Homo sapiens: one gene and its partner. The protein of the gene in region 2 interacts with the protein of the main gene of each other region in a pairwise test. Each region holds a gene or a part of one and is shown on either strand. Other genes may lie near its edges.

Region 1 (3,409 bases), on a different chromosome or scaffold from region 2:
GTATTCAATATAACTGTAGGATGACTATAGTTAACAATGATCTATTAAACATTCCAAAGTAGCTACAAAAGAATAATTCAGATGTTCCTAGCATAAAGAAAAGATAAACTGTGATGGATAATCCAATTACCCTGATTGGATCTTTACAAATTATATGGATGTATCAAAATTTTATATGCGCATCTGCTACATATCAATAAAAAAGGAAAAATGTTTTGAAGGGCACTAATACTGAGGTTAGGAACACTGGTGTCTTAGATTGGGTCCCCACTGGAGCCGACCCAGGAGTATATTTGGGAGGTGGTCCCAAGAAGTGCTGTATGGAACACGAAAAATGCTCCAGGAAAGGGAGGGAAGTGAATACAAGATGAGTTAATGATCAGAATAGCCCTGTAGGTAGCTGGAATTTGGTGTCTCTGAGGACCACTGACATGCTGGTACAACATGCTCCCAACTGGAGGAGAAATAACTAAAGCATGTGTTCACCAACTCTCACTCATTTGTTGAATACTATTCCAAGAGGCTTTAACTCTACAGTCCAGAGCTTGCTCCTTGGCTAGAGAAACTCTTCAAGAAGAGAGTTCCAGGTGCTTGCTCTAAGAAACCACCATTGTATATTAGAATAAAGTGTGCTGAGGAAATAGAGGTGGTGCCCCTGAAATTACATTCTGCAGAGAAGAACAACAGAAAAATTGACTGGTAATTGACCACACTCAAAAAAGAAAAATAATGAGACACAGTATCTGTATATTTCTATGCCTGAAAATTTATTTAAGATTTATTTAGATAAATATTTGTTTAAAATGGAATAGCTCCATATGAGAAATTATGGCAGAGAGCAAATATTTCAATTAAGATAGTTGACAGATTTCAGAGCAAATTACAACTTATGTTCATTTGGTAGAGAGGTAAAATGTGGGGGGAGCATATATTTGGAGGCCAGATTCAATCTAAGAATTGGTTGGAACTGAAGTTTTCCAACTAGCTTCCCATAACTCAGCTCATAGATGAGCTACATCAAGAATGCTGGTTGATGAGAATCTGGTGAGTCCAGATGACAGCCTCAGCAGCAAGAAGCACTAGAGCAGGTTGGGCGGCAGCACATGGTCTGGCAGCAGTTGGGGCGGCAGCAACTGGAGATGCAGCAGGAGAGCCTGCAGCAGCTGAAGCCACAGCAGGAGGAGCTACTGCTGCTAGAGATACTGCAGGAAGGCTGGCAGCAGCTGGAAATGCAATAGCTGGGGTGGCAGCAGGTGGTCCTGTAGCAGGTGGTTTGCCAGCAGATGGGCTAGCAGCATAGAGACTGGCCACAATGGGGCCTGTAGCACCTGGACACACAGCAGCTGGGGCGGCAGCAGGTGGTTCTGCAGCAGGTGGTCTGGCAGCACTGGGGTCTGCAGCAGCTGGACACACAGTAGCTGGGGCAGCAGCAGGTGGGCTGGCAGCACACAGACTGGCAGCACTGGGGCCTGCAGCAGCTGGGGCGGCAGCAGGTGGTCCTACAGCAGGTAGTCTGGCAGCATTGGGGTCTGCAGCAGGTGGGCTGGCAGCACACAGACTGGCAGCACTGGGGTCTGCAGCAGCTGGACACACAGCAGCTGGGGTGGCAGCAGGTGGTCCTGCAGCAGGTGGTCTGGCAGCACTGGGGTCTGCAGCAGCTGGACACACAGCAGCTGGGGCGGCAGCAGGTGGTCCTGCAGCAGGTGGTCTGGCAGTAGCTGGGACGGCAGCAGTTCTCTAGGCCACAGCCCTGGTCAGAGCACACAGAGCCACAACAGGAGTTGACCATGGTGTCAGAGGGTGGAGGTTCTGGGTGGGTTTCCAGGAAGGAGGGTTTGGAAGGCTTGGAAGTCTCCTTGCCCCAGATCCTCTTTTATACCCTGCTCAGGGCTGATGTCATCGGATGCAGCACTCTTTCCTTGTCATTGTTTGTTCTGATGAGCAGGCAATTATCAAATTAGGCAAGTTTGTTTTTCTGCTTAAATTTGTCAACATGGAGAAAAGCATTATTTCCTTCCCCTGGTGTGTTAGGATTCTTCAGGTCAGCTCTTCTTGAACAACCTCTTGTGTGCCTCTTGCTGCAGCTTCCTCCTTGAGCTGCCATGTGACATCTGCCTGCAGGTACCATGTGCTGCAGCCTCATTTTCCTTAATACATTATGTCTGACCTTGGGTGATTTTAATTCTTCTAGGCCCGTAATTTTCTTTTGGTGACTCAGGAGGAGAAAGCTGTGCTTTAATCTCATGGCATGTTTGTTATAGATCAAGTGAGCAATGAAGGTTTGAATGTGAAACAGGTGACCAGTGGCATGAAAACAAATACTATTAGGATATATTCCTTGCCACCTTCCATACAATGAATCATGACCCATTTTCTAGATGTTCTACTGGGGAAAGCAGAATTGTTTTAAGGTGGACATCTAAGTCATGAATTATCGATGCTTCTTTTTCTTGAGAAACAACACTCCAAAACTCAGTTTCAGGGCCTTTAGGGGAAATTGGCTACAGAGATCAGCTATACTAAAAGGTTCAGGTCCCTCCGCTCTCTGCTCTGAGGGGCTGATTTTCCTTCTGACTTTTCCTTCCTGTCTCTCTGGCTTTAACAATCACATTGAGTCATCTCCTCTATTTCTAAGGTTTACTTGCCAACCTAAGGTAAAGGACCCAGTGTCCTTGCTATATATATATAATATATATATATATATATAATATATATTATATATATACATATATATACTATATATAGTATACACACACACGTATATACACACTATATATAAATATACACACTATATATAAATATGCACACTATATATAAATATACACACATACACACACATATATGTGTGTGTATGTATGTGTGTGTATGTGTGCGTGTGTGTGTGTATATATATATATATATATATATATACACACACACACGCACACATACACACACATTATGTCTGACCTTGGGTGATTTTAATTCTTCTAGGCCCATAATTTTCTTTTGATGTATATGTATATATATATATACACTCACACACACACAGGTTTGGGGGAATATATATATTCTGCCAAAGGACCTTAGGAATATATATATATATTATACATATATAGATGGGTAGATAGAGAACCTTATATATAGGTAATATAGGAATATATATATTTACATATTTATGAATATATAATATATATTCTTCATATATGTTTGTATTTAATAGTATGTATAAATATATATATAATATATACAATAACATATTTAGAAATATATATATTTATATATATATGTATTTACCTTTATCTCCTAAGGCCCTTTACCTTAGGAATATTATGCACACACACACACACACACACTCAAACACACACACACACACACTCCCCCAAACCTGGATGTTAAAGAAACCCAAGGAAGAAGGCAGAAACTTCCT
Region 2 (3,828 bases):
GGTTTTTGGTTTGGTTTGATTTGGGGTTTTTCGGTCCCTGTTCCCACTCTTCGAGCTGCGCCCACCCCGGGCAAAGGGGGCGCTATAGGCCGGAGTTTGGGCACCCAGTTCCTTCCCTGAGGCCTGCTGAGCTGCGCTTTCAGCTACAAAGTTTCGCTGAGGCTGTGGGCTGAGACGCTGGTCCCGGAGCTGCGCTCGGCGCCCTCAGGAATGTGCCCCCGCTAGGCCGCTGGGTGGCCAGGAGCCTCCAAGCCGCCCACCCTCGAAGACACCGCCCTCTGGGTGCAGGGGACCTGCCTCCGCTCGTCCCATCAGCCGCTAACGCCGTCCGCTTCGTCCCCTTGCTTCCAGCGCCAGCCTTCTCATCGCTGTGCCCTTTTGTTTGCTTGACCCCTGGCCCTCGAAACTCGCGGCTAATAGAAGCGAAGCTCCATTAGCATTTAGAATGAAAAGCGCAGACTTTCTTAATTCCTCGGGGCATTCATGCATTCGTTCCGGACCTTGTGCATTTCCTATGCAACGTGTAAAATTTGTATTTGAGGGGTGGGGGCGGGCGGAGCTGGAAAATGGCTTTTTTCCGCTGGTGAACACTCACTGACCCCCCGTATTCGGGCGGAGCTCGTTCCTCAAGTGTTCTGCTTTCTTTGGTTTTCCTGACTTCGTAAGCTCGGAATCAATTGTGGGGGCAGAGAGATCAATTTCTGGGCAATAACAGGCTGCGCGTTTTTTTTTTAGCCTCGGTTTTGGTGCCACAAAACGGTGGTAGGCGCAGTGGGTTCCAACAACCTTTCCTCGGCTTCCCCGAGGCCGTGTGATGCTTCTTGCCCAGGGGGACTCCTGTACCATTAATCACCCTTAATTTTACGATAATTCTTTGTAATTAATGTAACATTTCTAGAGGTTGCCAACCAATTCCCCCAGTCCCCAATGCGCCCAGCCCGGGCCGTAGTGACCCATCCTGGTCTCACTGTGACCTATGTCCTCTTTCACCTTGCCTGTAGAGCCCACTGCGGAAGAGGGCAGCCCGGCAAGCCCGGGCCCTGAGCCTGGACCCTTAGCGGTGCCGGGCAGCACTGCCGGCGCTTCGCCTCGCCGGACGTCCGCTCCTCCTACACTCTCAGCCTCCGCTGGAGAGACCCCCAGCCCCACCATTCAGCGCGCAAGATACCCTCCAGGTAGGTCCGAAGGCAAGACCCTTTTCTCCTCCCTGGCTGAGGGAAGTGGGTGGGGGAACCACACACTCGGCGGGCAGCGTGGTCGACCTGCCCAGTGCCAGGACAGTGACTGCTGGCCGCGAATTTCACAACACAGGTGGCTTCCTCACAGGAAGCTCCTCTGTATACCACACCCTGTTGCTACTGAGTGGAGCAGCCAAATTAAATTAAGCTTGCATTGCTCAAAATTAATTTTCCTAAGAGAAATACAAATACACCAATAGATTAGGGTATTTTATACATTTTTAATTTCATTTTTGCTCTTCTTTTATAGCCAGTGTGCACATGTAAGAGTTATGGAATCACTTAGAGCAATACTGAGCATTTTCATTTATATAAAACCCAAATCATTTGGGTGCAGAAGTTTGGATGATTGAAGCTCAGAGGGAAGGAGAAAAGCATTTGAGATGAAAACCAAAGAGTAAATTTGAGTTTGGCAAAAGAACAGATTGCACTTTTGGTTTGTACCACCTCTTTACAAATTTGTTAAAGGAATACTAGGTGCCAAGCCTGTGTGGGCACCATAGATAATGCAGATAAATAGAATACAATCCCAGCAAGCTCATCTTCTAGCTAGAAACCTCAGAAAGACACAAATAAGAGCAGTAAAAAGGGATTGGCCGGAAAGAATGACAGAAAAGAGTAATGGAGAAATCCTAGAGGTGCTGAAGGGAGAAGGAGAATAGATCAAAGATCAGGCAGTGTTCTTTCTTTTAAATGATTAGCCTTTCATTTCATCCCAACAACTGGACAGCAAGATAAGTAACTGGACTTCAAACTAGTGAGTGTATTTTTAAGGCCCTGCTTGTTAAAGAAAGGCTTGAACTGGCCTCTCCTCATCACTGCTTCTTCCAACAGGCCCTCATCACCTTTTTTCAAGTCAAGATTTCATCCCATACATGCATGACTCAATCAGATTTGGAAATGTGGGTAAGAGAAAGATGTCAAAGGAAATGTGAAGTATTCACTTCTCTATTAGTCACACCTTTTACACCATAGACTCCAAAGAGGCGTTAAGCACCTGGTTTTCCTTTGGCTCAGAAAAACCAACCACCAAAAACCGCCGTTTTTTACCATTTATATTTAGCCATAAAGAAAGAAAAATAATTAGATAAATCATCCACTACATCCAATAATTCTCAGCGCCTTCTCACTCAGTTCAGCCTCTCTGAACAATAGTAAGCACCCTGGATACCAGCCACTTTGGGGGCAACATAGTCAAACTGGCAGAGAAATCAAGTCTATTGAGAAACTGCTTTTTTTCATGGGTACTAATTCTAGTGTCATAAGGAAATACCTATACTAACTTGCCTATTATGATAGTTATAAACTGTTATCACAAAACAGTCACTGATATGTTTTATTAGTTAGAATTGGGATATATATATGTGTGTGTGTGTGTGTGTGTGTGTGTGTGTGTATATATATATATATGGGTGGGTGTTTTGTTGCAGCTGCTGATCTTTTTCTTTGCAGATGGTACAAACTCTCCCGAGTCAATTTCCTGGGCCTATGTCCCCACCTAGCTGACTGAAGTTATCAACAGGGGTCCAGTTTGTGCAGGCTGCTAGCCCTATTGGAAGAGTGGGGATGAGGTGGGAGAAAGCAACCACAACGTGTGTGGGCAACCTCAATTGGCACTCATAAAATGTTAGAATGTCAACTCTCTCCCTTGGCCACTAAATCTCTCACAGGGTAGTTTTTCTTGCCTAACTCAGGTTTACAAATCAATGTGTATGCCTTGGGGGACCAATGGCCTCTTTCCTCCCAAATAAACCACTGGCTTTCTCTTTGTCCCCCTAGGTTATAGCTGAGGAGCCCACTCCAATTAGTTTATAGGATTCAAAGCCTCTTTTTAAAAACATCTCTGAGCTTATGAGGAAAGACTTCAAGTTTCCCAAATCTAGTGGAGGACAGGGCAAGGGAGGAAAGATAGGTACAGGAGTCCACAGGAGGCCAGGTTTTGGCACCCCTTTGTCAGGAATTCAGCTTCCTTACTAGGGATGAAGAAAATAAGTGTGGGGCTTTGTGTCTATGCTACCAGAAGGAGGAGAGGATGACACTTCCTCTCTGTTTCCCAGATTAGAGAACAGTGAACCCAATGCTGCCTGTTGGCTAGAAAACAAGTGTTAACTTGCTTCTGAGAGACCCTTTTCTCTGTCCCTGCAGATATGCCCTGCGTCCAAGCCCAATATAGCCCTTCCCCTCCAGGTTCCAGTTATGCGGCGCAGACATACAGCTCGGAATACACCACGGAGATCATGAACCCCGACTACACCAAGCTGACCATGGACCTTGGCAGCACTGAGATCACGGCTACAGCCACCACGTCCCTGCCCAGCATCAGTACCTTCGTGGAGGGCTACTCGAGCAACTACGAACTCAAGCCTTCCTGCGTGTACCAAATGCAGCGGCCCTTGATCAAAGTGGAGGAGGGGCGGGCGCCCAGCTACCATCACCATCACCACCACCACCACCACCACCACCACCATCACCAGCAGCAGCATCAGCAGCCATCCATTCCTCCAGCCTCCAGCCCGGAGGACGAGGTGCTGCCCAGCACCTCCATGTACTTCAAGCAGTCCCCACCGTCCACCCCCACCACGCCGGCCTT

Evidence for each region.
Region 1: the proteins of NR4A3 (region 2) and KRTAP4-4 interact in binary tests that used the Homo sapiens proteins (3 or more experiments, as listed by UniProt).

Annotation. Positions count from the first base shown.
Region 1 is NC_000017.11:41,158,903-41,162,311, forward strand, and holds KRTAP4-4 (keratin-associated protein 4-4), read right to left. Parts: upstream 1,847-3,409; 5' UTR 1,790-1,846; coding exon 1,289-1,789; 3' UTR 747-1,288; downstream 1-746.
Region 2 is NC_000009.12:99,824,658-99,828,485, forward strand, and holds part of NR4A3 (nuclear receptor subfamily 4 group A member 3), read left to right. Parts: intron 1-1,001; 5' UTR 1,002-1,175; intron 1,176-2,072; exon of another isoform or gene 2,073-2,113; coding exon of another isoform or gene 2,114-2,144; intron 2,145-2,690; exon of another isoform or gene 2,691-2,809; intron 2,810-3,383; coding exon of another isoform or gene 3,384-3,385; coding exon 3,386-3,828. UniProt on the Homo sapiens protein: Transcriptional activator that binds to regulatory elements in promoter regions in a cell- and response element (target)-specific manner.